Linked DNA regions of Homo sapiens. The protein of the gene in region 2 purifies or fractionates together with the protein of the main gene of each other region. This does not show direct contact. Each region holds a gene or a part of one and is shown on either strand. Other genes may lie near its edges. The genes, in order: EPS8L1, DIAPH2, TXNDC12, OAT, ALDH9A1, PRMT2 and PCCA.

The links.
Region 1: the proteins of DIAPH2 (region 2) and EPS8L1 fractionate together in Homo sapiens (co-fractionation; one large-scale study listed by BioGRID). This does not show direct contact.
Region 3: the proteins of DIAPH2 (region 2) and TXNDC12 fractionate together in Homo sapiens (co-fractionation; one large-scale study listed by BioGRID). This does not show direct contact.
Region 4: the proteins of DIAPH2 (region 2) and OAT fractionate together in Homo sapiens (co-fractionation; one large-scale study listed by BioGRID). This does not show direct contact.
Region 5: the proteins of DIAPH2 (region 2) and ALDH9A1 fractionate together in Homo sapiens (co-fractionation; one large-scale study listed by BioGRID). This does not show direct contact.
Region 6: the proteins of DIAPH2 (region 2) and PRMT2 purify together in Homo sapiens (co-immunoprecipitation; one large-scale study listed by IntAct). This does not show direct contact.
Region 7: the proteins of DIAPH2 (region 2) and PCCA fractionate together in Homo sapiens (co-fractionation; one large-scale study listed by BioGRID). This does not show direct contact.

What each region holds. Positions count from the first base shown.
Region 1 is NC_000019.10:55,085,599-55,089,183, reverse strand, and holds the end of EPS8L1 (epidermal growth factor receptor kinase substrate 8-like protein 1), read right to left. Parts: intron 3,466-3,585; coding exon of another isoform or gene 3,426-3,465; exon of another isoform or gene 3,344-3,425; coding exon 3,211-3,343; intron 3,124-3,210; coding exon 2,992-3,123; intron 2,793-2,991; coding exon 2,666-2,792; intron 2,471-2,665; coding exon 2,296-2,470; intron 1,882-2,295; coding exon 1,749-1,881; intron 1,657-1,748; coding exon 1,570-1,656; 3' UTR 1,261-1,569; downstream 1-1,260. UniProt on the Homo sapiens protein: Stimulates guanine exchange activity of SOS1. May play a role in membrane ruffling and remodeling of the actin cytoskeleton.
Region 2 is NC_000023.11:96,914,804-96,919,333, forward strand, and holds part of DIAPH2 (protein diaphanous homolog 2), read left to right. Parts: intron 1-1,634; coding exon 1,635-1,771; intron 1,772-3,705; coding exon 3,706-3,814; intron 3,815-4,530. UniProt on the Homo sapiens protein: Could be involved in oogenesis. Involved in the regulation of endosome dynamics.
Region 3 is NC_000001.11:52,044,474-52,049,003, forward strand, and holds part of TXNDC12 (thioredoxin domain-containing protein 12 precursor), read right to left. Parts: intron 1-4,530. UniProt on the Homo sapiens protein: Protein-disulfide reductase of the endoplasmic reticulum that promotes disulfide bond formation in client proteins through its thiol-disulfide oxidase activity.
Region 4 is NC_000010.11:124,412,262-124,416,791, forward strand, and holds part of OAT (ornithine aminotransferase, mitochondrial isoform 1 precursor), read right to left. Parts: intron 2,812-4,530; exon of another isoform or gene 2,692-2,811; intron 2,172-2,691; exon of another isoform or gene 1,857-2,171; intron 1-1,856. UniProt on the Homo sapiens protein: Catalyzes the reversible interconversion of L-ornithine and 2-oxoglutarate to L-glutamate semialdehyde and L-glutamate.
Region 5 is NC_000001.11:165,677,503-165,682,032, reverse strand, and holds part of ALDH9A1 (4-trimethylaminobutyraldehyde dehydrogenase isoform 1 precursor), read left to right. Parts: intron 1-1,349; coding exon 1,350-1,546; intron 1,547-2,450; coding exon 2,451-2,591; intron 2,592-4,530. UniProt on the Homo sapiens protein: Converts gamma-trimethylaminobutyraldehyde into gamma-butyrobetaine with high efficiency (in vitro). Can catalyze the irreversible oxidation of a broad range of aldehydes to the corresponding acids in an NAD-dependent reaction, but with low efficiency.
Region 6 is NC_000021.9:46,655,906-46,660,435, reverse strand, and holds part of PRMT2 (protein arginine N-methyltransferase 2), read right to left. Parts: intron 1,692-4,530; coding exon 1,516-1,691; coding exon of another isoform or gene 1,512-1,515; exon of another isoform or gene 1-1,511. UniProt on the Homo sapiens protein: Arginine methyltransferase that methylates the guanidino nitrogens of arginyl residues in proteins such as STAT3, FBL, histone H4. Acts as a coactivator (with NCOA2) of the androgen receptor (AR)-mediated transactivation.
Region 7 is NC_000013.11:100,302,090-100,306,619, reverse strand, and holds part of PCCA (propionyl-CoA carboxylase alpha chain, mitochondrial isoform a precursor), read right to left. Parts: intron 3,697-4,530; coding exon 3,622-3,696; intron 870-3,621; exon of another isoform or gene 786-869; intron 1-785. UniProt on the Homo sapiens protein: This is one of the 2 subunits of the biotin-dependent propionyl-CoA carboxylase (PCC), a mitochondrial enzyme involved in the catabolism of odd chain fatty acids, branched-chain amino acids isoleucine, threonine, methionine, and valine and other metabolites.

The DNA.
Region 1 (3,585 bases), on a different chromosome or scaffold from region 2:
TTTCCTATTCCCCTACTAAGAATGAGGGGTGGGGCCCCGGGCAAGTGGTAGAGGGGCTGAGAGTATTCTGGGCAGAAGCAACCACATGAACCAAGCTTGGCAGCAGGAGGAGGGAAGCTGAGCCCCGTGGTCGGAGAAGCTGGTGAGCCGAGTGGGCAACCTGTGACTGCCAAGCTGGGGCCTGGTTTTATCCGGTGAGCCATAGGGAGCCAAGGGAAGTATGTGAATAGGATCTAGGGACGGGGCAGATAGGAGAAGGACTCTTGGAGATCCAAAGAGGAAGGAAGGAACCAGAAGGAACCAGGCAGGAGGTGGCAAAGTGGGGACTGAGAACTCCTGCCTGCCCCAAGGGCGGGGGGCGGGGTGGGGGTGGGGGGGCGTCTCTCTGATCCTTTCCCATCTTGGAGGGCGCCATCTGGTGGCCCAGGTTGGAACAACTCCGGGAGAGGCTTGAGGCCCAGAGGCCCAGAGGCCCTCAGTAATCTGGGGAAGGCAGAGCCAGGGGAGAAAGAGAAAGGGCCATTCTTCCCAAAGGCAGAGAATATCCAGTCTGGAAAACAGTGGGATCCAGAGAAAAGCAGACCTTACCAGCCACCTGGATAATGGGGAAAAGAAAGTTACAGGGCTTGCCAGAGGGAGAAGGAGCTAGTTCTTGAGGGATTAGGAAGTTTTCAGTTGGCTGCCATCTCCCAGAACAAAGAGTGGCCAGAAAGCTGTGGCATGCTTGGGAGGCAGCCAGTTCTACCTGGTAGGGCCGTGGCAGGAGGTGGGGGACAAAATGGAGAAGTGGATGCTGGGAAACTAGCTTCGGGGATGAGGGCAGGCTTCCCCACAGTGAGTGTTTGAGCTGGGCCAGGGAGGCTGAACAGGAGTTCGCCAGGCAGGGAATGGCCGTTTCAGCCAGCAGAGACAGCAGGTGCAAACCTCAGAGGTTGAACGCTTGGGAGCGTTTGGAGAAGGGCAGGGCCAGGACGCAGGAAGGAATGAAGTGAGAACGTTGGTGAGGCGGGAAGGGAGACACAAAGCCTCATGCCCAGCAGCCGCGAGCCAGGGAAACGTGAAGGTGGGGCAAGCTGGACTAGGCTGGCTAGGAGGTCAGGAGGGAGCCTGGTTTGGGACCCTGGGGATGGAAAGGAGGGTTCAGAGAGAAACCAAAGAGGGTGGAACATTTTCCAGGTTCCATGAGGCTGTGACTGGGTCGAGGGGCAGGTTTCTGAGCCCCCTGGTAGCCGGGTAGAGGACAGCAGTTGGCACACCATCTGCTAAGCACGGAGGCTGTTTATAGGCTGGGCCGCATATTACAATGCTCAGGGCTCCACTGCACCCTCTCGGGGGTCTGCTAGCGCTTTCCGTAGACTGTCTCCACGCCCTCCCCACTCCCAGCCAGTCCAGATCCTCTCCGGAGGGACTGCAGCAAGGATCGTTAAGTCTGTCCACCGGGATGGGGGAAGACCAGGGCCGGAGCAGATTGGCCATCCTTCAGAAGATCGACTTCCGCTATTGGGGAGAGTCTGAGGAGTCCGTTCTCCCACGGGGCCTCGTCACTCTTTGCGAAGGGCGCCTGGCAGGTCAAATGACCTCCATTTCCACCTCGCCTTCCACCTTCTTCTTTTGCTTCTCCATCACTGCCTCCAGCTCTGACACTTTCTCTTTGTCCTGGAGGGCGGGGTGGAAATCGCTTTGTCCTGGCGTCCGAGCCCTCGTCATCCCAACCCTACCCAGACCCAGGGACCAGCGGTCCGGCTCACCTCCAGCAGCGAGCGCTGCACGGTGACCTGGCTGTACACACGTGCCCCCTCCTCGGGGCTCACCGCCCGCAGCTCCTCCTTCTGCAGCGAGAAAAGCTGCGCCCCGGTCAGCACACCCAGCGCGTCCACGGTCCTGAGCGAGGGCAGCCCGGGCGCGGTCAGGCCGGTCGGCGGATGCCCCAGCCCGGACAATCATGTCACGCCCACCCGGCGATGGTCCAATCAGAACAGCATTCTAGCTCTAGCGGGGGCAGGCCCGACACCTCCTGAACCCCACCCACCAATCACAATGTTGCCACCCGGGGGGCGTGGCCGCATCCTGCTTTCAAAGGGTACGGGATTTCCCTAAGGAATCCAGTCGGAGTCTGAAAAAACATGGCAATCACAGCCTGCCATTGGGTGTTGCTACCAGACAGACCCTCACTTCGGGCTAATCCCGGCTCCCTGTGGTCTCCACGACTGCCGCCCCCCGACTCCCGGCCGATCGGAACGCTCCGCTCCCAGCGTCCGTATCAACCCGCGCCGAGAGGGCCCCGGCCCCACTCACCCGGAGCTAAAGCCCTTGGCCTGCAGCCAGGCGCGGACCTCGGAGGCGTCCGAGCCCGGGCTGAGCTGCGGTTCCGGGGCGCGGGGCCCTGGGACTGCGCGGCTCGGTCCCGAGCGGCCCTGGGCCAGGCGCGCCTGCAGTTCCTCGTTGACGATGAGCATCTGGGAGAATTTCTCTGCAGGCGGGAAACCGGGAGGTAGGGAGTGCGGGCTCAGGGCGAGGGGTCCTGGGGCCAGAGGGCGGGGCGGGGGGGCGCTCCAGCGTCCCCAGAATGGGACGGGAGTCCCTTTGCTCTTTCTGAGCCCCCGTTTCTCTGCCTGGAAAGCAAGGATAAGGACCGCTCCCCGCAGCCGGCGTCCCCACCACTCACCCTTCTCGCTGGGGTCCAAGCCGTTGAGGCTATCGCAGCTGTCCCAGCGGGGCCTGTCCCAGCGGGGCCGAGCCAGAGCTGGAGGTGGGGCCGGGGCTGGGGCTGGTGGTGGAGGAGGAGTGCTGTTCTGAAAGGAAGGAGAGGAGAGTACCTGGGTTAGGGAGAGGACTCAGAGTCCCAGCCTCTCCCCTTTCTGGAGATGCATTTCTGAACCCCCAGTCACCACCTGCTCCAGCACTCTTGACAGCTGATCCCCACGCCCCTTGTTCCCAGGATCTGGTCCCAGCCTCTCCACCCTCAAGATCCCAGCGTCTGCGCTGGCTCACCAGGCTGCGGGCAGGGCTTTGGCTGTGGTGCAGCCGGGGTCCGGGGTAGGGTGTCAGGATGTTGTAGGGCACATATCCCTCCTGCCCCGCTGGGTCCCGAACCTTCCACCACTTACGACTGTCATCCAGGACCTGGGTGTGGTAAAGAACAGAGGGTTCAGAGCCTGTCTGCAGCTAGGGCTGGCTAATTCCTGCCCCTCAGCCTCCCGCTCCTCTAACCTCCAGTACGTCCCGCTGCTTGACCGACAGCTCACTGCTGTTGCGGGCCTGGAAGTCATAATTACACAGGACCCATTTTCCTGCTGTCTCTGACTCCAGCTGAGGCTCAGATTCTGGCTCCAAGTCTCGGTGACTGAGGAGAAGCGGGAGGGTTGGAGATAAGGAGGCAGCCAGCCCCATTGCTCTGGGCTGCAGGGTGCTGGTGTGAGCTGGGGTTAGAGCCAAGCTGGGGGCACAGCAGGGGCCGGGTTAATACTGTTAATAGAAATTTGAAACAAGAATAACAGACTGAATATATTTGCTCCCTCCGTTGCTTGGCATTGTGCTGTAGGCATATGTAGTGGGTACTATCCCACCATCGATTCCATTTTACAG
Region 2 (4,530 bases):
CACATAGGTGCTCAGAGCATGGATTAATGGATCTTTTGAATTATAGACATGTGAAACAATAGGCATAAAATATGCCTTCAGAATAGAAAATATGCAGTGATCTTTTCACTTCATGTTGGAATAAATTGTCCAGATCAAGGAATTAAGCTTTTATCCAAAATGACTTACACATCAAATTTTTTGGCCCCATGGAGTTTAGATTACCTACTTCAAAAACTCCTTTCTTTTATCCAATACATGTAACAATAGGATCATAAAAAGCAACCCATTGTTTCTTAACTTCCAGTACTATAATATTGCTCTGATGTTTGGATTAATGATTTTCCAGATATATTTTTCATGTCTTCTTTTTTATTTTTGATGTGTCTCTATATATTAAAAACTACTTATAAACATTAAGTAAAATTTTTAAAACCTAATGATTTCACTCTCAGTCTCAATGACTCATAAAGCTATTAAGTTTGGTAATTGCGTGGTCATTGTCTCTCAGTTTTGCAAATGTGTTTTTCACTAATATTCATTACTTTTAATCATCTACTGGCCACCTTTATACATACTTATCTATTTTGTTTTTGTTGCTTCTTTCAAGACTTGTTTCTTGCATTTTCTTTTTTTTTTTGGTCTTATCTCCATATATTTTCCTATTTATTATGACCTGTGATAAACTCACATTTAAGAGCTTTAGCTATGTTCCCCATCTGCCACTCGGAGTTCTTTTAGAAATTAAATTAGGGCTGATGGAACTATTCATATGGTTGGTAATTAACTGAAGTTTAGCTGAAATGGAAATTTTGCTCCGATGAAATATCCAATTTCACCATTAGACTGTAAAATGAAGCAAAAATATTTTATAAGAAATCTGAAAAATACTTTGTGGGACAAAGATAAAATAATATATTGCTTTCTTAATGTAATGAAAACTCAAGTTTTAGACTTTCATTAGAATTTCTTTACTTATTTATTAAGTGCGTGCATGCACACGCATGCACACACATATTCATGCTTAGAAAATAAATGAAAATGGTGTTTTCTCTCCTTAGTTGACTTGTGACACTTAATAAAACCCAGGTGCCATTTCTTTAGGTTCACAGCTTTTGTAGTGCAGCACAGCTGTCTGAATCAGGGAGGATAAGAGAGAGAAGGCATGGGAATATCCATACTGAGGCTTATACTGGCATATAGTATTCAAAAGAGCCTTTTAAAAAAAATTTCTCTTTTTCTTCACCTTAATTTTTCATACAAACATATTGGACAATTTAACCACGAATTCCAGACATCTCCAGGGAGACCCAGTGACATAAGTAGAATCTTACTTTAGAAAATCATATCAGTATGCGCTTTATATGTTATTCTTTGTTGAAGAAATACTGATTGTTCCCATATTTCTCCAAATTTATGGAATTTTTAGGGCAGGCTAATGGAGATATATCTGATCAAGGAGCAACAACTCCAAGATGCAGTGATTTCATATAAAAAACAAAGACAGATAACTGCATTTGAAGAATATTCATATAATTAGGTAGAACCTCATTGTGGGGGTATGGGTTTTTGGAAGATCATTGTACGTTGCTTTTTTAAATTAAAGATATATTCCATAGACATTCTGAATGAAGGTTTTTTTTTTTTTTTTTTAGTTTGGATTACAAAGGATTCTAGGAGATGAAAGAAGTCTTTTACTATTGGCAAGAGCAATTGACCCCAAACAACCCAACATGATGACTGAAATAGTAAAAATACTTTCTGCTATTTGCATTGTTGGAGAAGAGAACATGTAAGTATTGCTATATTATTATATTTGCTGCATGGAAAATGACACTTAAGAAATTAATAAGTCCTACTTTTGTTCTCTTTCTTTGGATAACTTTCATGAAAACAGTATTTTAGATAATTTTTGATTGAAATTTTTATCTTGCCTGTTTATATTTTGGCTTCTTTGTTGACATTATAGAAACTCAGTTTAAACAGATAAAATCCTAGTGGGAAATTCTTGAAAGTTGGATTCAAAGTGATTGAGCAGAATTTTGTTTTGCTGGAGGTACAGCAATCATTAGAAAGTGGACAAAAATCAGAGAGTTATTTTGGCAAATACACACACATACATACACAAATACTGTGCTGCATATCACACAATTTGAATAGATGCCTTTATTTTACATTATCTTATAATAGTATTTTACTTTATATGCCATGGTAAATGAAAATTATTTGTAAAGTGAAATAAACCCACCTGTTAGAAAAAAACGGTTGTTGATAATTATTCAAAGTGTATATGTGCCACCAAATGCAGCAAGTTGTTGCTGAACATGCATTTGATCACATCTTCTTATGGAAATAATATTGAATCAGAAGCAAACTTTCAGATTTGATGACATTAATAAGTCTAGTTTGTAATGAACCCTTGTGATAAAGAATCAAATATCTGCTAAGGACCCGAACCAAAATATTTCCTTGGAACACTTTGCGTGACAGTAATAATGTCAATTTGAGTCAGAACAGGACTATGCAAAGATTTAAGGATGTTGGAATATGTTGACTTTCTCATAACTGTTAGAGTAAAATGAGATGTTGCTTAGTGTTAGCTACTGTCCTCAGAAACCAAAAGACAAACACTAAACAAAAATATTATCATATTAAGTCTCACCTCAATGATAACAAACTGAGAATGAGATAACATATGTAAAAGCAAGGATCCTTAGGATTTTATTTTTTAAAAGTCAGTTTATACATGTGTAAGAAATATTTTTTAATCACTTAGATTTTCAATATTCATAAAATACAATGTAGTCCAGTATAACTGTTATGATTTAATTATAATTTCAGATATAATTTGATAAGAGTAGTATACTATATAGAGATTAATTTGTTTTAGGCATTGTGTGGAGATACCAATATTTTTGGTCAGGTTAATAAGTTTCTTGTGCTAGATAATTATACATTCTTCTTTAATCACCTGGGCTTTCCTTTTTAGAGTCTTTTTTCTTTTTCCATTGTCAAAAAATGTTGATTAAAAAAATTCTTTAAAAAATAATCACTCTTTCCAGAACTTTATTATAAAATTACAATCTGTTTATGCTCCAATAAACTGTTAACAATTATAGGTGTCATATTATGTTTAAGTGATATTAATGTTAACACATGAAATATCAAAACCTGAAAATTTAAATTTTAATGTTTATCACTTAAGTATTCTTTTTTTAATGTCACCCAGAAAAGTTACTTTCCTTAAGATTTTTAAAATCGAATTTTCCTTTTGATGCCCTAAAATTATTTAGAGCTATCAATATTTGCCTTAAAGAAATATACGGACAGGAACACAATTCCTATATTGTAATGGTCTTTCAGTTAGACTGGAGGAATCAGTTCAAGAAATCTATTTTATGTGATAGTGACTGTAGTTAATAACAGTGTGTTGTATACTCGAAATTTCCTAAGAGTGTATGTAGACTTTAATTGTTCGTACCACAAAAAAATGTAAGTAGGCGAGGCAATATATGTTAATTAGCTTGATTTAGCCATTCCAGTATGTATACATATTTGAAAACATACAATTTCCATCAAAAAAGCAAATGATAATTTTTAAAAATTCTAATGGTATATATAAACATCAAATACCAGAAAGAAAACAGGGAATACTGAAAGGACCGGTGCTCATAGTGTCTGTATAAGAAGTATTTCTCATTTCTGTTTCTTCTTTTTTCTCTACAGTCTAGATAAACTTTTAGGGGCTATAACAACAGCAGCAGAAAGAAATAACAGGGAACGATTTTCACCAATTGTGGAAGGTTTAGAAAATCAGGAAGCCTTGCAATTACAGGTGAGTTAGTTTTGTCTTAAATTGCTTCTAGAGTTATATTTAGAGTACTCATTTTGTATGACATCAACTCCATTTTAGCTGGCATTTAAGTAGTATGGAATGTAAAACTAAAATTTTTTCTGTTGCTAGTTTGTGAGAATTGCAATTTGTTTAAAATTAGGAAAAATACTTTTGAATTATTATAAATGTGGCAGTTATGGCTGTCATTGATATTTAGACAAGAATTTAGTAATTAATGTAATAAACCAGGGAAATTGAAGCCTCAGCAGTAACTAAGGTAAAAGGGCAAGCAGTTCAGCCAATGCCATTATCCTAACAAGTGTTAGTGAAGTCGGTGGGCTTGTAGAAATGTAAGACAATTAAACACATCTCTCTTTGTGCCATTCAGACAATATTCAAAGGTGTGACTCACCAGAATAGAAGGGATTGAATTGCAATTCTTAGGTTAGCGTTAATTTGATAGCCCTGTGTAGACACAACTTACTAAATGCCTCCTTTAGAAAATGACAAAACTCACTATCTTTACCTAGATGGTTTCAGGAAATGATCCATTTTATGAATAGCTCTGTTCTTGAGGGATGAGAATGCATATTTATTGGCTGAACTTATGGTATGAAGTCCTGCACTAAACATTTTAATTTGCATATATTATTTGATTTAATTCTCACAACAACCTAGATATGAAGGTATTGCTATAGTATCTTTGTTTTGCTTAT
Region 3 (4,530 bases), on a different chromosome or scaffold from region 2:
ACAACCATTATGAGCTCACAATCATGGATCACCAAAAATGTGAGAAAAGAAGTCGCCACAAGAACACAAGCAACAAACAGATTTTGATCCCTGAGGAATTCAGATATTAGAATTATCAGCCACAAAATACAGAAATAGCTATGCATGAAATGTTTAAAGAAATAACACATGGAATCACAAAAACAGGCATGCAGCATGCAAAATAAATAGTCAAATCTGGCCAGGTGTGGTGGCTCATGTCTGTAATCCTAGCACTTTGGGAGGCCGACGTGGATGGATTGCCTGAGCTCAGGAGTTCGAGACCATCCTGGGCAACATGGTGAAACCCTGTCTCTACTACAATACAAAAAAGTTAGCCAGGTGCCGTGGTGCAAGCCAATAGTCCCAGCTACTTGGGAGGCTGAAGTAGGAGAATTGCTTGAACCTGGCAGGCAGAGTTTACAGTGAGTTGAGATCACGCCACCACACTCCAGCCTGGGTGACAGAGCAAGACTCTGTCTCAAAAAAAAAAAAAGAAAGTCAAATCTGTGAAGTCATCAAACAGAACTTCTAGAAATTAAAAATACAGTTTTGTTGAAATACAAAGTGAATGAATATGCAGTGATAAAAGGAAAGGAGTAATCAAGCCACGAAAAGACATTGAAGAACCTTAAACATATACTAAGTGGAAAGAGCAATTTGAAAAGGCTATATACTACATAATTCCAATTACATGACATTGGAAAAAGCAAAATTATGGAGATAGTAACAGATCAGTGGTTAACAGGGATTCTGGGGGAGAGAGATGAATAAGTGGAGCTCAGGATATTTTTGTAACAGTGAAACTATTCTATATGAAACTGTAATGGTGGATACATACTGTTAATGGCCTCAATTGTGTCCCCCACCCCACTCCAAAGTTCATATCTTAAAGTCTTTAAAGAGGTAGCTGAGGTAAAATGAGGTCATTGCGGTGGGCCCTTATCCTTATGAGAAGAGGAGATTAGGACACAGACAAACTTAAAGGGAAGATCATGTGAAGACATAGAAGACAGCCATCCACAAGAAGAAACCAACCCTACCAAGACCTTCATATTGGACTTCTAGCCTCCAGAACTGTAAGAAAATAAACTTCTATTGTTTAAGCCGGTTAGTCTGTGTATTTGTTATGGCAGTCCTAGCAAACGAATACATATGTTATTATACATTTGTCAAAACACATAGAATGTACAACACCAAGAATGAACCCGAATGTAAACTAGGGACTTTGGTTAATAATAATGTATCAATATTGGTTCGTCAATTGTAACAAACTATCTTTCAAAAGTAAGAGCAAAATAGACATTTTTAGATAAGCTGAGTGATTTTTCCATCCTTCCCTCACAGCCCTCAGAAAAAACAATCCTGCTGACACTGTGATTTTGGACTCCTAGCCTCCAGAACTGTGAGACAATAAATTTCTGTTAAGACACAGTTTGGGCTGTGGATGGTGGCTCATGCCTGTAATCCCAGCACTCTGGGAGGCCGAGGTGAGAGGATCATTTGAGCCCAGGAGTTTGAGACTAGCCTGGGCAACATAGTGAGACCCCATCTCTATAAAAAATAGAAAAATTAGCCAGGTGTGGTGGTGCATGCCTATAGTCCTAGCTACTTGGGAGGCAGGGGCAGGAGGATCGATTGAGCCTGTAGTGAGCTGTGATTGCCCCACTGCACTCCAGCCTGGGTGACAGAGCAAGATTCTGTCTCGAAAAAAAAAAAGACACAGTTTGTGGTACTTTCTTACTGTAGCCTTAGCAAACTAATACAGGGGAGCAAGGCAAAAGCAAGGAGACTAATAAAGGGGCTACTACAATAATCCAGGCAAGAGATGATAGTGGACTGGACCAGCTGGGGTGGTAGAGGGGTAAGATACCAATAGGTTCTGGATATATTTCAAAGGCAAAGTTAGCAGGATTTTGCTATGGATATGGGATATGAGAGCAAAAAGAGAAGTCAAGGATCACTCTAAGGTTTTTGGCCTGGACAAGTAGAAGGATGGAGCTGCCATTTACAGTGAGGATGAAAGCATGATTAGAGCATGACCAAGACAGTCCAAGGAGAAAAATTAGATCGAATACATACAACTCTTTCAAAAAATTTTTGACTGGGTGTCGTGGCTCACGCCTGTAATCCCAGCACTTTTGGAGGCCAAGGCAGGCAGATCACTTGAGGTCAGGAGTTCGAGACCAGCCTGGTCTAACCTAACATGGTGAAACCCCATCTCTACTAAAAATACAAAAATTAGGCCAGGCGCGGTGGCTCACGCCTGTAATCCCAGCACTTTGGGAGGCCAAGGCAGGCGGATCACGAGGTCAAGAGATCAAGACCATCCTGGCCAACATGGTGAAACCCCATCTCTACTAAAAAAAAAAAAAATATATATATATATATATATATATATATTAGCCGGGTATGGTGGCACACACCTGTAATTCCAGCTACTCAGGAAGCTGAAGCATGAGAATTGCTTGAACTTGGGAGGCGAAGGTTGCAGTAAGCCAAGATCATGCCACTGCACTCCAGCCTGGGTAACAGAGTGAGACTCTGTCTCTAAAAGAAAAGAATTTTGCTGTACCAGGGACAACTGAAAGCTGATAGAAATGATACAATAAAGATAGGAAAAAGGGGTAATACAACATTAGAAGGGAGAGTCACTGGTAAAATATTGGTGAGTCGGTGAGAGGAGACGGGATTTAGCACTCAAGTAGAGGGATTAGCCTTTGCTAGGAATAATGATGGTTTATCAGGTAACAACAGGAAAGGGAGCATGTATGAACACTAGTGGGTAAATGCAGTAGTGAAAATTTTTGAAAGGCCTCTTCCGATTCCTTCTGTCTTCTGGTAAAGAGGGACTATAATTACTAACTGAGAGCAAGGACTATGGAAGAAGTATTGGAGATTTGAAAAGACAGGAAGAAGTATGAAATAGTCCCCTAGGAGAGAATCAGAGAAAATAAAAAGGATAGCTAAAGGACATATTTCAGGTAGGAAATGATCCCAGAGGAAGGCCTAGATACAAAGAATAGTGAGCAAATAAACCAGCAAACATGTAGATAAATATGTAAATATTGTCTGTATAGCAATTTATAATGCCCGATTTGTAGAGTTAAAAAAGAAAGAGAGAGAGAACTAAGCCAGGCACAATGTGCACCTGTAGTCCCAGCTACTCTGGAGGTTGAGTCAGGAGGATTGCTTGAGCCCCGGAGTTTGAGGCCAGTCTGGGCAACAGGATGAGACTCTATCTCTAAAAAATAAATAACTAAGTTTCAAAAAAAAATTAAAATTAGAACTAAATATGAGACAACTCCTTATAAGTGAAGAGTGGGTGATTGAAATTAAATGTTCTAAAGTCCCTCTTACCACTGGGGGTATAATAGTGTTAGATTTTGTTAAGTATGCAAGTAAAATTTCAAGAGTTACTACTAAAAGAAAAGAACTAGAATGCCAACTTCCAAACTAATAAAGGAGATAAAATAAGAACAAGCAAATATTCAACCCCCAAAGAAAGGGCAAAAAGAAAAAAAAGCACAGAAAAAAACAGTAGAAACTGGATAACAGAAACAAGAGCTGTTCTGTCAATAATCACAACAAATATAAGTGGACTAAACTTGCCAATTAAAGTGAAAAGACAAAAATTGTCAGACTTGGTTTAAGAAAAAAGTACCTCTACGATGCTTATAAAAGCATACCTAGCCAGTTGTGGTGGCTCACACCTATAATCCCAGCATTTTGGGAGGCCAAGGCAGGAGGATCACTTGAGGCTAGAAGTTCGAGGCCAGTCTGGGCAACATAGAGAAACCTCACCTCTACAAAAAAATTTAAAAATTAGCTGGATGCAGTGGCATGTGCCTATAGTCCCAGCTACTCAGGAGGCTGATGTCAGAGGATTGCTTGAGGCCAGGAGTTCGAGGATACAGTGAGCTATGATGGCACCACTGCACTCTAGCTCGGGCAACAGAGGGTGACCCTGTTTCTTTTCTTTAAAAAAAAAAAAAAAAAAGCATGCCTAAAACAGAAGGACTTACAGAAGTCCAATGCCAAACAAGATAGAGTCAAGGAAGCTAGATTAATATAAGGTTAAATAAAATTTCTCAGCCAGGCACAGTGGCTCATGCCTGTAATCCCATTACTTTGGGAGGCTGAGGCAGGCAGATCACTTGAGTTCAGGAGTTCAAGACCAGCCTGGCCAACCCCATCTCTACCAAAAATTTAAAAATTAGCTGGGTGTGGTGGCGCACACCTATAATCCCAGCTATCTGGGAGGCTGAGGTGGGAGAATCGCTTAAACCCAGGAGGCAGGGGTTGCAGTGAGCCAAGATGGGGCCACTGCACTCCAGCCTGAGTGACAGAGTGAGACTCTGTCTCAAAAAAATAATAATTAATTAATTAATTAAAATAAATTCTCCATGTACCTAGGCCACTCAGAAGCTAGGTGTCAAACCTTACAATCACGTAAGGTTATTACTAATAGAGACCTAGAACAGCACTGTAAAGTAGAACTTACTGCAATGA
Region 4 (4,530 bases), on a different chromosome or scaffold from region 2:
GCACTTTGGGAGGCTGAGGTCAAAGGATCACGTGAGCCCAGGAGTTTGAGACCAGCCTGGGCAACAGAGCAAGACTCCATCACTAAAAAAAATTGAAAAATTAGCTGGGTGTAGTGGTATGCATCTGCAGTCCCAGCTACTCAGGAGACTGAGGTGGGAGGATTGCTTGAGCCCGGAAGTTGAGGCTGCAGTGAGCTGAGATTGTGCCACTGTACTCCAACCTGGGAGACAAAGAAAGGCCCAGTCTCAAGAAAAAAAAAATGGCCAGGCGTGATAGCTCACATCTGTAATTCCAGCACCTTGGGAGGCCAAGATGGGAGGATCGCTTGAGCCGAGGAGTTAAAGACCAGCCTAGGCAACATAGTCTCTATAAAAGAAAAAAAAAGAGTGAGAATCTTGAGTCAGGTGTGGTGGTTTGTGCCTGTAGCCCCCAGCTGCTCAGGAGGCTGAGGCGGGAGGATCACTTGAGCCCAAGAGTTTGAGGCCAGCCTGGGCAACAGAGTGATACCCTGTCAATCAGGCAATCAATCAACCAACCAATCAATAAGAGTAAGACTCTTTCCAGAGCTAATGCACTGTGTGTTGACTGAGTACCTGCTAAACACTAAGTATTTGTTAAGCACCTACCACAGTCCGATACCATCAGGCACAATGCTATGAGACAGCTACAACTGTAGGGCAGAGACCAGAGGCAGGGAGACCAAATCAGAGAAGACTGCCAGAGACTAGGCATGGGGCAGGAGACAGAGGAACTGTCCATCCCTCTGGGCTCAAGCAGTCCGCCCACCACGGCCTCCCAAAGTTTTCGAATTAAAGGTGTGAGCCACTGTGCCCAGCCTAAAATCTTTTATTTAGCCACAAATATCTAAAACTTCTGTAGGTCAAATTTATCATAAACAAAGGTGAAAGGCAAAAAGACTAGGAAAAAAATGTTAACTTATAATAGCTTTAAAGTGTTCACAGCAAGTTGAATTAGACCAACATATACATACATACATAAATACATACACACACACACACACACACACACACACACACACACACACACATATATGAGATTCCCAAACAAAACAATCTATTCTGCTAGGATGGTTGTTTCTACAAAACTTATCCTGAAAAATTGTAGCATAAAAGATATTGTTGACCAGGTGCGGTGACTCATGCCTATAATCCCAGCACTTTGGGTGGCAGAGGCAGGCGATCACCTGAATCGGGAGTTCGAGACCAGCCTGACCAACATGGAGAAACCCCGTCTCTACTGAAAATACAAAATTAGCCAGGCGTGGTGGTGCATGCCTGTAATCCCAGCGACTCAGGAGGCTAAGGCAGGAGAATCGCTTGAACTTGGGAGGACGAGGCTGCAGTGAGCCAAGACTGCGCATTGCACTCCAGCCTGAGCAACAAGAGTGAAACTCCGTCTCAAAAAACAAACAAACAAACGAAAAAGCTATTGTTAGCAAAAGGTAACTGAGAAACTAGAGAGAGTCAAACTACAAACTACAATCCGTTACTTGTATGAGTGTTAAAGTCTAAACATCACTGAGCAGGCTGGTGTTTACCCTGCCGCCCCATCACATAAGTCAGAGCCATAGCTACTCTCCCCAGTCACCCCCAGCCCTAAAACTAGCCCCTCCACAAGGCTTCACACACCTCTTTGTACCCAATTTACCATTAAGCATCCTGATAAGCCATGAAGTAAAAACTAAGCTATGAAAGAAACTAATAATTAAAAGGAAATTAGAGCATGTGCATAGGAATCACCTCTGGAAGGAAAAAAAAAAAAAAAGCTTAAAGATAAATTCATGATTAGGAGAAAGTTGCCAAAAACTAGGCATACTTATTCCATCTATACTTACTTTCTAAAAGACTAGTTAATTCATGTTTCAACAGAAGTCTACCAATGACAAGTCAAACCATGTATAATCTCACAGCCACTCTTGATTCGAGCTGCCAAATTAGCAAAACATAATACTTGGAGTTTGGCTTACTTCCCTTTAAACTTGGCACTACCCAGTAAATCCAGTATGTTCAGGAATTTGCAATTGCTAAACAAAATCCAGTACTCCGGTTTGCCAAAGACTCACTGACTATTTTTTCTTCCCACGGTTCAGTCTAGAATACAGATTTTTAACCCAAGATCCAGGGACAGTCTGCAGAGAGTCCAAAATCTCCTGAAATAAAATGCAGAATTACATGCAGACGTATATTTTTCCAAGAAGAAGGTCCATAACTTTCATCAGACTTTATCTCAAAGGGGTGGGTACCAACAATCAAAACAAAAGTGATGTAAGAATCATCCAACTGGAGGTAGCTGCTAGCAAAAATGTCTAACTGTACTATATGTAACTTCCCCAAAATACTACTGCTAAGTCTAAAACACTCATGTATGATTTCTTTCTTGGACTCTTTATGCTTTACTCAGTATGAATAAATTGTTTGATCAACTAAAAAATTAGAACATTAATTTTTGCCTATCAAATTAGCAGTAAAACACTCAGGCAATACTTAGTGGTGCTCTAAACCGTAACAACTTTCTAGGGCCAGGCAAGGTGGCTCACGCCTATAATCCCAGCGCTTTGGGAGGCCAAGGCAGATCACTTGAGCCCAGGAGTTAAAGATCAACCTGGGCAACATAGGGAGACCCCATCTCTATAAAAAATATGAATATTAGCCAGGTGTGGCGATGCGTACCTGTAGTATCTGGTACTTAGGAGACTAAGACTAAGGTGGAAAGATCTCTTGAGCCCTGAGTTCTGGGCTGCAGTGAGCCACGATCTGTGCCACCAGCACTCCAGCCTGGGCTACAAAGCGCTAAAAAAAAAAAAAAAAAAAAAAAAAAAAAAAAAAAAAGGAATATCAGAGATTATCTAAATTCAACATTCTTATTTTATATAAAAGTTATCTGCACAGCTAATTTCCAACAGAAATGGGATGAAAAATTCATTTACCTGTTAAGTTTAGGCAGTTTTATTAAAGAATAACTGGGGACAAAATAATATCATTCAAAACATTACTAATACTCATTCTTAAGGTTTTTGTTTCTTTTCACTTACAGATGGAGTCTCAGCTATGTTGCCCAGGTTGGCCTCGAACACCTGGGCTCAAGGGATCCTTCTGCCTCAGCCTCAGGAAGAGGTGGGACTACAGGCACACACCCCTGAGTCAGCTATTCTTAAGGTTTTTAAGATGAATTCTGGATATTTAATTCAACTGGGAAAGGTCAGAAACTGGATGAGCCATGATGTATCAAAATCCTGTAAACGCATTTCTATTAAAGAACCTTCTGTGTTCAAGTTACTGTGCTTGGCACTGTATGAGAAATCTTAGAGCAGAATTAAGATGGACTTAAAAATAGCCAACATCAATAACAGCCTCTTCCAAAAAGGTTTCAAAACCGGGAGAATCAAGCGGAAAATCCCGAGTTTGGAGACCGGGATTTTAAATTCTGTCTGTGGTTCTGAAGAGTAACTCTGGGTGATTCTGTCAATCTTTCTGAGCTTCAGTCTCCCCATTTGTAAAAGGAGGTTGAAGTGTCACTGAGGATGAAATGGGTTAATGTTACTGTGCCAAATCCAGCACAAAATGGCCACTCAGTTCCCTTTTGCCCTTAAAACTAGCCAGTTTCTGAAATATCAGAATCAACAGTGCCATGATTTATTTTTAAAACTGTTTAAAAAGACACACACACACCATTTTTCAGTTGATAAAAAATTAGAAAACACAGACAAGAAAATTACCAGCAATTTTACACTTGCATGATAACCATTAACATTTGGTTATTTTTTCTATGCATAATTAGCATCCATATTAGCTTTTTTTCACCCTCCCCTATAGAATTTACTATTTAAGTCCCTCCTAGAGACTCCCAGGGACTGTGCAGACTTGTAACGGGTCCTAACACTGCAGGCCACTTGTTTTTATGCCTATAAGTCTATACTCTAAGCTCCTTTAAAAAACAGTAAAATTCACTTTGCATTCCTAGAACCTAGCCCAGGTTGGGCATCCTGTGGGCCTTTATCAGATAAAGAGGTCAGTCTTACTTAGGACTCCTGAGGGAGTCAAGGTAGCAAGTGATCAAGACCATGGGATCACCTATCCCTGACCAGGTTGAGTCTAACTCTAAGAGGGGGTGTTCACTCTCTGACCTCATCTAGAATAACTCATCTCTTCATCAAGAGTTTACTTCATTAGATCTAATGGCCTTCAAAGGTCAAAATAATGTGTTCCAGGCAGCTATCATGCATCTACCTGACGCCCATACTCAGGTCCTGGAAATGAGAACAAATTGCTCTTGGCAAGCTAGAATTCTAACACTGAAGGTTTTATCCACGTAATTAACAGGGTCCTTCAGGCTACCATTACTCCCTCCATCTAGCCCATCCATCTACATTAGAACATACCTACAGTAGAATTTCCACAAAAGGCTGCATTTTGAAGTTAATTTAGCCTATACTCTTAAAAACTATTTTCTTACTCTAAAAGAATAGTCGGCGTAAAGTTGTCCAAAAGCCACTTAAAATATTCAACTTG
Region 5 (4,530 bases), on a different chromosome or scaffold from region 2:
TTCACCTCTCTATAAACACACACTTTAAATCGGAAGGGGCCTGCTCTGGGATATTCAAAGCCTCAGAGGACATGGCTCGTTCCTGCCCTGTCTTGCCCCTCAAGGAGCTTATAGTTAAGGTTGTACACAATCATGTCTAGATATTCTCAGGTTTTATTTATTTAATTTTGTATATGAAAAGAAATTTAATTTTTTCTTATTAAATTGAATTAGATTTGTGCTACTTATAAGTTCTCTTCCTTTCTGGACAAGAATTTTAAGGTAGGAGTTAGCACTTAGGAGTTTGACTTCATTTACGAAGCAGAAGATAAACTCCTTTCTTCATTTGGGTCTTAAGAGAAATGATAAGCAAGGCTTTGATAAGCTTCTTATCAAAGAGGAGCTTTGGCTGATTGACATAAAATAGTTTTCTTACAGTATTTAAAGAGAAGAATCTTTGAGGAAAGAAGACTAATTTTATCTTAGAAAAAATTGTAATGTTAGAAAGCATTACTGTTAGGACATTATATTGAAATGCAGCTTTTGTCCTGTTGCCATTGCATGTTCTTGTTTTAGCCTATTTCTCTTTGAGATACAGCTGTGAAAGAGGAAAAATAGTCACTAGCTTTAATAGTCACCAGAATTAAGTCACTAGCTTTGGGGACTCTCATCAAGTGAACCATTCTGGTCTTCAATGTCAACTTTTATAAAATGGAGCTAATGATACCTACTTCATACTGCTGTTGAAAGTGTTAAATGAGATAATATATGTGAAAAGGCCTAGATATGCAAATGTGAGACTGGGCAACTGTAGGGTTTGGGATCTGTTTAATGAGAGAAACCAAGATGAAAAGGACAAGAGTTGTTTACTTATTGATATGGTTTGGCTGTGTCCCCACCCAAATCTCAACTTGAATTGTATCACCCAGAATTCCCATGTGTTGTGGGAGGGACCCAGGGGGAGGTAATTGAATCATGGGGGCTGGTCTTTCTCATGCTATTCTCCTGATAGTGAATAAGTCTCATGAGATCTGATGGGTTTATCAGGGGTTTCCGCTTTTGCTGCTGCTTCATTTTTCTCCTGCCGCCAATGTAAGAAGTGACTTTCACCTCCCGCCATGATTCTGAGGCCTCCCTAGCCATGTGGAACTGTAAATCCAATTAAGCCTCTTTCTGTTCCCAGTTTCGGGTATGTCTTTATCAGCAGCATGAAAACAAACTAATATGGTTATTAATAACATTTTTGATGTAGGATTTGGTTGGGGAAGAGGAAACAATTGGAATCATTTTTGAATTGTCCTCTAGTCCTGTTTTCAGGGGATCACTGGTCTTAGAAAGTCTTTTTATGTTTGTGTCTTGGGTTTATGCAGGTAATGCCATGGTCTTTAAACCTTCTCCCTTTACACCTGTTTCTGCATTGCTACTGGCTGAAATCTACAGTGAGGCTGGTGTACCTCCTGGGCTCTTCAATGTGGTGCAGGGAGGGGCTGCCACAGGCCAGTTTCTGTGTCAGCATCCCGATGTGGCCAAAGTCTCCTTCACTGGAAGTGTGCCCACTGGCATGAAGGTGAGGACAAAACCAGTATTGGTCAACACACATGGCATTTGGATGTGGCAAATCCGGTCCTACCCAGAGTATATTTTGGAGGCTTCTCTTTTGATTTTACCTAGCCTGAATTGGGAATGGGAAGGAGATTTTATTAGGCAGAGGTGTGAAATTTCCTGTAAAAGTATGAAGGGGGAAAGGGAGTACACATGGGGTGATTTGTGTTAGGCCAGGTAGGGGTGGAAATTAACAGCCCCAGCCTAAGGAGAGGATGTGTCTTAGTGGACAGGGGCCTGGGCTGCCACTTGTATTGTTTAGTGACTTAATTTCTTGTATAGAAGAAAGGATTTTTACTCAGGCTATTTCAGATCCATTATTTTGACATTAATTTGTGTTCTGAACTCTGTCAGCCTTAAACACAGTAACAATAACACAAAAGAATTTCTGGCTATGACAATCCTGTGAATTGACAATATTTTTTATTTTTATTTTTTTGAGACAGGGTCTCACCCTGTTGCCCAGGCTGGATTATAGTGGTGTAGTCACAGCTTACTGCAGCCTTCAACTCCTGGGCTCAGGCAGTCCTCCTGCTTCAGCCTCCTAAGAAGCTGAGACTACAGTCATGTGCCACTGTGCCTGGCTAAGTTTCTTATTTTTCTGTAGAGATAGGGTCTTGCTATGTTGCCCAGGCTGGGACAATATTTTTTAAATGAACTCCCTCTTCTAATGTCAGTGCAACTCTGTGGATTCTCTTCAGTTTTCTGGAATAGAATATTTTAATAGCCAAAAGGCAAAGGATATTGACAAGAATAAGGCTACAGGTCACAAACAGTTCAAGATGATTTTGTAGGTTCAGGGCCTAGTTGACTTAGCATGCAATATAATTTGTGTTAAAGTTCTGAATACCTTGTCCTTGTTCTGCAAGATCATGGAGATGTCAGCTAAAGGAATCAAACCTGTTACCTTGGAACTTGGAGGCAAATCTCCACTCATCATCTTCTCAGACTGTGATATGAACAATGCTGTAAAGGGGGCGCTGATGGCCAACTTCCTCACACAAGGCCAGGTATGTACCTGTCCCTGGAAGAGGTGTAAAAGGAATCTCTACCCCCTCATCCAACAGTGTGTTTTAAAGCTTTTTGTTTTACAATACTTTCAGACTTACAGAAAAGTTGCACAAATAGTACAAAGAATTCCCATGTACCTTTGAACCAGATTTCTCAAATATTAACATTTTAACAGATTCACTTTATCATCTTCTTTATCTGCCTGTACATACGTAGGCATATTAAGTTTTTCTGAACCTTGAGAGTAAATTGTAGACATAAGGCCCCTAACCTCTAAATATAAAGTTCCTAAAAACAAGTGCATTCTTTTACATAAGCACGGTACACTTAGTAAAATTAAAAAATTAACATTGATATAGTACTGTTACTGAATCTATAGCCCTTACTCAATCTATAGCCCTTATTCAAATTTTGCCACTTGTTTGACTAATGTCCTCATAGTAAAATAGAACAAAAATGGTTTTTTTTCCGGTCTAGGATCCAGTCAAGGATGATGCATTGCCTTTAGTTGTCTTGTCTTTAATCTCCTTTAGCTGAGAACAGTTCTTCAGTTATTCTTGTCTTTCAGGACGTTGACATTTTGGGAGAACAGGCCATTCATTTTGTAGAATGTTCCTTAGTTTGGGTCTGTCTGATGTTTTCTGTTAGATTCATATTATGAATTTTTGGCAAAAATACCACAAACATGATGTCATATCCTACTCAGTGGTGATTTAACTTTGATCACTTGCTTTAAGGTAAGTCCTCACTGTAAAGTTACTGTTTTTTACTTTGTGGTTAATAAGATCTTGTAGGAGGTATTTTGAGACTATCCTGTTCCTCATCAAACTTTCATGCAGTAAATACTTCTATCACCACTGACGATTCTTGCTGAAAACAATTTTTATTATGGGGTTGCAAATGGTGATTTTCCAATTCCATCATTTCTTCTATATTTGTTCACCTTCTACTGTAAGAAAGAACTTGCCCTTCACCCCTGTTTGTTTTCCATTCATTTATTTATATCAGTATGGACCCATGGATTCTTATTTCATTCTATGTGTTATAATCCAATACTATCATTATTTATTTATTTTTTATTTTTATTTATTTACTTACTTATTTTTTGAGACGGAGTCTAGCTCTGTCCCCCAGACGGTAGTGCAGTGGCACGATCTCGGCTCACTGCATCCTCTGCCTCCCAGGTTTAAGCGATTCCCCCGCCTCAGCCTCCTGAGTAGCTGGGATTACAGGTGCCCGCCACCATGCCCAGCTAATTTTTGTATTTTTAGTAGAGACAGAGTTTCACTGTGTTGGCCAGGCTGGTCTCAAACTCCTGACTTCACAATCCACCCACGTTGGCCTCCCAAAGTGCTGGGATTACAAGTGTGAGCCACTGTACCCGGCCTTTATTTTATTTTTTTATTGAGACGGAGTCTCACTCTGTCACCCAGGCTGGAGTGCAGTGGCACGATCTCAGCTCACTGCAACCTCCACCACCTGGGTTCGGGTTCAAGTGATTCTCCTGTTTCAGCCTCCCAAATAGCTGGGACTACAGGTGTGTGCCACCACGGCTGGCTAATTTTTTTTTTTTTTTTTTTTTTGAGACAGAGTCTTGCTCTGTCGCCCAGGCTGGAGTACAGTGGTGCGATCTCGGCTCACTGCAAGCTCTGTCTCCTGGGTTCATGCCATTCTTCTGCCTCAGCCTCCCAAGTAGCTGAGACTACAGGCACCCGCCACCACGCCTGGCTAATTTTTTGTGTTTTTAGTAGAGATGAGGTTTTACCATGTTAGCCAGGATGGTCTGGATCTCCTGACCTCATGATACACCTGCCTTGGCCTCCCAAAGTGCTGGGATTACAGGCATGAGCCATTGTACCCAGCCTCATTATTTATTTTGATGCTAAAATAATTGCAGATGGCTGGTGGGAATCCCTTTCCGTGACCTTTTGATATGCC
Region 6 (4,530 bases), on a different chromosome or scaffold from region 2:
TTTGTGGATCTTCTATTAACAGTAAATGAACGCGGTATTCCTGCTGTAGGTTACTCTATAATAAACGAAAGGAACTAGAAGGGCTGAGGTGGCCTGAGTGAGTCTGAGTTTCAGGAGAAATACTTGCTCTGTTGCTACACAAATTCAACACAGAAACAGACACTAGACGCCGCATGGCCCCTGCATGTCACCGTTTGCCAACCCCCATCACTGGCTGCACTAGGCTTGTAAGTCACCGATTATTTACCACAGAAATGTTGTAAAAAATAAGCAAAGCAGTAACTTCTGAAATAGCAAATAAAAGTGAATGTTTTAATAAAGATTCCACTATATTTACACATTTATTTTTCTGATAAAAAATTACAAATTTAAAAATTGGAAACTATGGACAAGTATAAAGAAAAGCTTAAATTCCCCATATGCCTGTCTTAGCATTGTGATATACTTATTTTTATCCCCCAGACATATTTATATAAATTTATTTATGCAAGCAAACATCCATTCTGTATACACGGTTTATTCTGCCAAGCTTTACTGTCTCTTAAACCCTTTCTAAATATCATTACATATCCCTAAAAACCTATGGTTTCTTTTTTAACAGACACACAGCAGTGCTCCACCAGATGGATATACAGCAATTCAATCACGTTCCTCTGGACGGCCACTGGCTTCCAGTGCCGGGAGGAACACTCAGGTGGGAGGCTCTGGCAGTGACTGGGGTGGGCAGCCTGATGCCAACCTCTAAGGCCCTGGCAGCCACACCTCCCTGCCACTGCCAGGCAAGCCTGGGCTACTATTTTAATTTACTCTTTGCTTGTCTGGTAGGGAAAACAGCATGTATTTTAATTCGCATTTTAACTACTAACAACATTATAATTTTTCATATATTTATTGGTAATTTTATTTATTTTTTGCGGTTTGCCTGTTCACATGATTGGGCTGCAATTCCATCTGGCTAGTCATCTCTTTCTAATTGATTCCAAGACCTGACAGCACGTGATTTCTCTAATTACTTGTTTGCTTTTACAATCGTGTTTTTGCTGATTTCTGCCACATAGACTGCCAGATTCTATCTAGCCCAGGGTCCATTCCATCCATTGTTGCTGCTCATTTCTCCACCTAAGATGGTGCACACAGGCCCCCATGGATGTCTGTCGCTGACGCTGATTCCATGCAGAATTAAGTTTTCACGTATGGCGTGAGAGAACAAGGGCTAATCAACTGCTCCAGAATAATTTGCTGACTTGGCCCTCACTCCCTCCTAATCGTAATGCCACCTTTTTCACATACGAAAATTTTTGTTCCTTGCATTCTACCCTGCTCTGCCCATCTGTCTTGTTATAGCACCATACTGCTTTAATTACTCCAATGCTACAACAGATTGTCCTATCTGGGTGCACAGGTACCCTCATTTATCCAACCGTCGTATGGGATCTCCCAGGGCCTTGGCCCACCTGCAGACTGTGGACCAGGAGGCCCCACAAGACGGTGCCAGTCCCAGCTGTGGACACTTACTTCAGAGCGCTGAGGTTGAACTCGTACGCGTTGTCCCAGAAGAGCACCTTGCTACGATAATCCTTATCAGCACTGCAGGGCACAAGGTGCAACGCAGCCATGGTGGGCCAAATGACCCCGTCCTCCTTCAGCCAGGCATCCCGGGCATACAGGATGGACTCGATCATGAACTCAAACTGCATAGGAGTGAAAGACACACAGGAGACACATCACAGGCCCCGCGGCTGCACAGGCCTCTCACCACCACATTCGTAACACTAGTCTGACAGTTCTACAGTTTTAGCCTCAAGAATATTCCTGCCTAGGCCAGTGTACCATGCAAGAGAACATCTCGAGGGTTTATTTTATGCCCACACGTCACTGATGCATCTCACAGCCTGGGTTTAAGTCACATAATTTCCCATTAGAACTATGAACTGGAGCAGAGCTAAAAGCAAGGACAAATCTTCACTCTTGTCCCATCTCAGTCACGGAAGAGCTCGTAGCTACCAGATTTTGAAAGAGCCCTGAAGTGTTGCCGGGTCCCAACTGTTACATAAAATATATTTGGTCCGTAGCATTCTCAGAATTTTCACACCCTTTAAGTGGACTGAAATCACTGCTTAAGAAACCGAAAGCCACGCAGGCATGCCCTGGCCATTCACGGGTCCTTTGGTCCACCTTGCATCCCTCAGAAGGTCCCAAGTCAAGGGAAGCACATCACATCTATGACTGAGGAAGTGGGGACCCAACGCCCTCAAAGGCCAGGCTTTCTGTCTGAACCAGAACTTGCTTCAAACACAGAAAGGAGTAGAGGGAGCACCAGCGAGGTGGGGCCAAGGCCTGTGGCCCCTGCAAACCACCCAGGGAGCCTGCACTTCATCCTGTAGTTGATGAGAAACAACAGAAGTGTTTTGCTTCCTTAAATAATCTCAAGCTGCTTTTATTACAGAAGTAATACATGTTTTGTACGGAAAATGTAGAAAACTTAGAAAAGCTCAAACAAACATAAAAATCACATATTAACCCAGTACCTAGAAGGAACCACTGTTATCACTCTGCAGTTTACCTTCAAGTATTTTTCTACACACGCACACAAAAAATATATACATCTTATTTTTCAATCTTATTTTTTCAGTTATGTAGTGAAACAGCTTTTCTGGCGTACAGCCTACGAACTTGAGCGCTTGTGTGGATTTTGTCCTCACAACCACAGCCAGCATACACACAGCTCTGCCACCCAAAACACTCTTCACCCTTTTCTCTGGTGGTCATGCCCTCCCCGACCCCAGCCTCTCCAGCCACCGATCTGGTCTCCATCCCCATGGTCTTGTGTCTTTTTGAGAATATCATACAAATGGAACCAAACAGTACATAACCTTTCAAGACAAGTTTCTTTCACTCACTGTACCGTTTCTGGGGTTCCTCCAAATTACCTGTTTCAATAACTGGCTCCTCTTCACTGCTCAGTGGTATTCCACTGTGTGGACGCACCAGTTTATCCTTAAGGATTATCCAGATGAAGGACACTTGGGTTGTTTCCAGGTTTTGTTTTTTTTTTTTTTGCAATTATAAAGAGAGCTAGTATAATCATTCACATACAGGTTTTTGTGTGAACACAGCTTGCATATCTCTGGGTTGAACACACAGGAGAGGGACTCCTGGGCATAAGGTGAGTGCACATACAAGTCTATAAGAAAGCACCCACCTGTTTCCACAGTGGCATGTTCCCTCCAGCAATGCATGACTTTCAGCTGTTCCTCATCCTCGATGACAGTTGGTATTACTATCAGATTTTTTTTTTATTGTAGTCATTTTTCAATGGGTGTAAGTGATATCTCACTGTGGCTTTAATGTGCATTTCCCTGATGGCTATGCTGAACATCTTTTCATGTGTGTATTTGATATCTGTATATCCACTTTGGTAAAGTGTCTGTTCAAGTATTTTGCCCATTTTCAATTGGCTTGTTTTCTTCCTGTTGAGTTTTGAGATTTCTCTGTATATTCAGAACACACACTGGATATGTTCTTTGCAATATTTTCTCCTAATCTTAGCTTGTCTTTTTTATTCTCTTAGCATCATCCTTTTGCAGAGCAGTCATTTTTAGTTTTGATGAAATTCAATTTATCAACATTTTCTGCTATGGATCACGCTTTTAGAGTAAAAAGTCTTTGCCCAAGTCCAGGTGATGAAGATTTTCTATGATTTTTTCAAGGAGGTTTATAGTTTTACATTTCACACACTTAGATCTATGATCAATTTTAAGTTCAGCTGTGTATGAGATGTGAGGTTGAGGTGTTGTTTTTTAGATATGGATGACAACTATTCCAGTAACATTTGCTGAAAAGACTGTCTTTTCTCCATTAAATTGATTTTTGTACCTTTGTTAAAAAAAACCCATTGACCATATTTGTAGAAATCTCTCGTCTCCATTCCATTGACTTACGTGTCTGTCCCTTCACCACATTGTCCTGATTACTGTAGCTTCAAAATCAAGTAGTATAGTTCCTCCAACTTTACCCTTCTTTTAAAAAATTCTATCAGCTACTCTAGTTCTCTTAGTCCATTTTTGTGTTGCCAAAAAGGAATATCTGAGGCTGGGTAATTTATAAAGAAATGAGGTTTATTTGGCTCATGGTTCTGCTGGTTGGGAAAGTTCAGGATTGGGCATCCAGTGAGGGCTTCAGGCTATTTCCCCTCACGGTGGAAAGCAAAGGGGAGCTGGCACGTGCAGAGACCACAGGGTGGGAGCAGAGGCAAGTGGGCGTGCCAGGCTCTTTTTCACAACCAGCTCTTGTTGGGACCTGAAAGAGCTAGAACTCACTTATCTACCCACGAGGAAGGGCATTCATCTATTCATGAGGGATCCACACCCATGACCCAAACACCTCCCACTAGGCCCCACCTCCCAACACCACCACACTGAGGATCAAATTTCAACATGAGATTTGGTGGGGACAAACCATAGCACTAGTTCCTTTACATTCCATATACATTTCATAATGAGCTTATCTATAAGAACAAATCCTGCTTGG
Region 7 (4,530 bases), on a different chromosome or scaffold from region 2:
TTTTCTTGGGGTGGGGGGTAGGGGGATAGCACAAGTTCAAAATATTCTTTTGAAGAGGCTGATTGCTGTTAACCAGCCAACGAGTGAGTTAGTACATCACTGATTCTTGTTTTCATTTCCCAGTTTGATACCAGCAGCAAGGCACGGAGGTTAGCCATGCAAAACTTTAAAAATGAGCAGTTACTGAGGACAGAACATTTATTAAATTATTAGAAAGAAGTTTTGGAATCTGAAGTATTTAAAAGCTAATCAAAATACTTCAGACTGTCAGGCACATCCTAGGGGTCTTGAGGATGGAGGAACTGAATCAAAGCTGCTGGAACAGCAGGACTTTGATGCCCAACATTGTAAAGGGGTGGGAAGAGAAGAGCGGAAGCTCACGTAGCCTTCCACCTGTGGGAAGAAGCCTTCCTAATAAACAGCAGCTCATCTGTCTGCAGCAAGGCAGAAAAAGGTCAACACAGCGGCTGTTAGGCCTTTAATATTTTAATTTAGGCAATTATCAAGGGACCACATGTAGAACCTCTTGTCTAGGATATCCACATGAGGGTATAATGATGGCTTTATTATACGGTGACATCAGAAGACAAGCGATAGTTTCATTTTCTTAAAATTCACACTACTATTATTCTCTTTGTAAGGTTGTAAAAGGAACACTATAACATACCTGAAGGGCTTTTATTTCTGTATTTGCAAGCACAAACAAAAATATAGATATCTGTATTCGTATTCACATTCATATACAAAAATCTTAATTATAAACAAAAATCATTCAGCACACTTACGAAATATACTTGGCTTTCTATTTTCTGAAAACATATTTCAGGACATAAACTGATGTTCTATGAAATTCACAGTGTTGACAAAAACTAGAAAAAAATTAATGGAGCAGCTTTAAAAGCAATAAAATCACAATCTACCTTTTCCCCACATTAAAGAGCCCCAAAATGGCAACTAGTAAACGGGTTACATAACAGAAAATATATCTGTGAGTTTTCATTTTCTTAATTTTAGTACTAAAAAGTGAAAGAGCTAATTTGACCACTATGTCATCTTTAAAACCACAGCATGCTTGCTAATGCTGTGTTTACAAACGAGACTGATACAAGTTCTAAAACTTCTGACTTTAACTACATCCTATCATTTGCTACATAAACTGCTACAAAGCTAGGAAGAACTTAGATGTTCAACCCACAAATAAAATAACATAGACAATAAAGAATATTTATTATGTTCTTCTACAGTTCCTTACTTAAAACTTCAGTTGCCTTGAATAATATCATCCTATAAGGTGTTACCTACAGATCTTAATTAAATATAACTGTCTTTGTTATTTACTAATATTATGATCACAGAAGTTATGTCATCTTAACTTTAAAATACATACGATAAAATCAAGATATATATAAACACGTATCTTTGTATAAGCAAATCAGTATTCCCAATTAAAAACTGTACCACAGTATGAAAACTCTGCTTTATAATTTACTATTTATGCTGCTTTTTCCAAGTAATAATCAGCTATATTTTTATTTCTTAACAACCAATCTGAAGTCAGATCAAGTCTCCATTCCTTCAATGAAAGGCTATACAAATTTGCACTAAAAACTTTAAGAAAAAATTCAAATGAAATCAGAACCAAATTTCTGAGCAGAACAAAACTGTGGTCTGAAAATAACAAATTTACAAAACATGATGATCAAAAATAAAAAAGGAAATCTTCACCTCTGCCATATTAATAAATCTCAGGCTTAATGAAGCATGTGAAAAGTACAAACCATAAGTTAACTCTTAAGTATGCATTCTTGTGACCAAAAAAGGTAAGAGCCAAAAATTGTTTTCTAAGGTAAACTGACTGCTCTAGTTTTAATAAGACAAGGAAGAAAAACAAACAATAACAACCACAACAAAACACCCAAGCACCTCTGTACGAGATTCTCAAACCACTGCTCAGAAACCTCTAGCATAATTAAAATTTCTGTCTTCAGTACCACAGTGGACTCTGTGAAACTATCAGACATCTCCCACCCTTCATTCTCAATTCACCTCTCCCCCTAAGCACAACTCCCAGCCCGCCATGTCTACCTGACAAGTGACAGCCCAATCTGATTAAATGCTTCCAAGGGAGGGGACTCATGGGCCTCCATGACAGGCCAAAAGTGATCACCATGGAGATACATAATTACAGCTGTCAACGCATCTACTGTCCTGCTGACATCAATTTGATTGCTCCCAGCAATAATGATAGACAAAGCTTAGTGTGCACTCTCCTGCACCCAATCACTTTATCTACTCCTTGGTCCATTTAGCTGACATGCAACATTCACACAAGCAAATAACAGCAGTAAGCAGAACATTTAAGGCATTTTAATTGTTTTTTCTTTCTATGGATGGCTCACAACTGCAAATGTTATTACATAAAACTCCTGCTGCAGCATTAATTGAAGAAAGATTTGGTGGGATGAAGACTGTAGGGGGTATAGTTTGTCCATTATCACTTGTACTTTCAACAGGTCTCACGTTTGAAAATTGCAAATTGCAAAAACTTGCGAGGGCAAAATGTTTGACATCCTGTTAGCTATTACAACATGGTGAAAACTTCTAACAACTAGAGTAATCATTATGAATTCTTATTTAATACTTCTTTTGTTTGATTAAAAAAGTGTTTAGATATGTCCCTATGATACTTGTTTTCTCATGTGCTATTTAACGTCACATAATGCCTGTTAAATCTTCACAATTTTTTTTCTGCCTTCTGGCTTTGAACACAGCATGGAGTCTCCAAGCACAGAAAGGGTCAAGTCCCTTTAGAAAGCACATGGGCAAAAACAATTTAAAAAGTGAAATAAATCATATATCCAATAATATCTTCAGATTTAGAATTCTTCCTGTAATCTTTCACCATCTTCATGCCAGTAATCAAAATGAATAATTTGAATATTCACAGATGGTACAGCCTTGTCATCTACTAGCTAACATAATGTCATATATATATATATATATGCACTTATTACCTTGATTAAGAAAAAGGGTATGTCCTTGCTCTTTTTCTGCAACAAAAACTATTTTCAAAATAGCTATTAAATACAGAAGAGCTATGGAATAAAATGGACAGTGGTCACTTTTATTTAACTGATATAAATATTATTACTCTTTAAAGTCCATGAGGTTTAATAGACTGAGGCACACTTTGTTTGCCTTAATTCAATCTCCTTAAATTTCAATTAAGGAGCTGATTTTGTGCTTGAATTTCTTGACAAGTGACTATATAGCAGGGTTGGACTCGATTTATTGAAAAGATTAAATTGTAACACAAAACATCATTTCTCATTCTTAGGATTCACAGCCTTTTTTATTATAATTTTCGAAAGAATTGGGAACACTGTAAGCTATCATTTATATCATCAGATGTCCCCAGGCTTCCCCTGTCCAGTGAATCCTGACTTTCTTGAACACCACAAAATACTGAAAAAAATTTGTTTTCAACACAAAAACCATGATTCCCATGAATTTCACTTGTCCTTCAATTTACACCCTTTGGTGTTGACATGCTTTAACATAAAAGTATGACATAAATCACGATTTTAACCCTTCAGCTGGTATTACAGCTTAATGACTTACACCAGGTAGATGTAACGGTTCTTGGTACTGAGACAATCTCCCAATAGATGGTAAACCAAAAGACTTGTAGGGGTCCTGAAAGTTCAAAGGAAAGGAAGCACAGTCTTTGAAATATAAATCAGCACAAGTAAGGTTAAATATTTACACAATGAAGAACCATTTATAGGTCTATTTTCAACATATGGTATTTACCAAATCACAGATTTCAGAATATTATTGTCTTTTACGCTAGACAACTTAGAATGTACTTAAAAATCAAACAGAACTGTAAGCAGAATTTAGCCTGACCTTGTTCATACTTTATTGAAATTGGTAAAATTCCAACATTTTATAAAACTTCTTAGAATGCCTTGGGCAAAAAATAAAATAACCTAGGCCCTACATCAAAACATACTCAAGTTTAGAACAACAAATGTGGTATACTAAAGATATTTGTTTTTCTTACTTCTCAAAACAGTTCACATATGGTAAAACTTGAGAATTTGGGTTCTTCAAATAAAGACCTGAAAAAAAAAACTTTGCACGCTACTAGATATGCACTTCATTTGTAAATATCTTAGATCATCAGAATAAACAGGTTCAGTGTCATAAGAATGAAAGTAATACTACTTAAAATATGAAAAAAGCAAGAGCAATACAGTCACGCCAAAACATATTTTTGAACTCCTTGAAAAATATTTCAAACCAGCTCTCAGTATTCTTAAACACAGACACTGATTTATTTTTAATCTTGACAGACATTTTTGATGTCGAAAAGTAAAAATAGTACAAATGTTACCTTGCATTCTTGTTTTAGTCATTTGAAAAAAAGCATTTAGAAGTACTGAACTGAGAGTTTATGAGTAAAACCCAAAATTAAAATTATAAATTAAGAGTACATGTTTTACTAAAAGCTTTACAATTTAAATT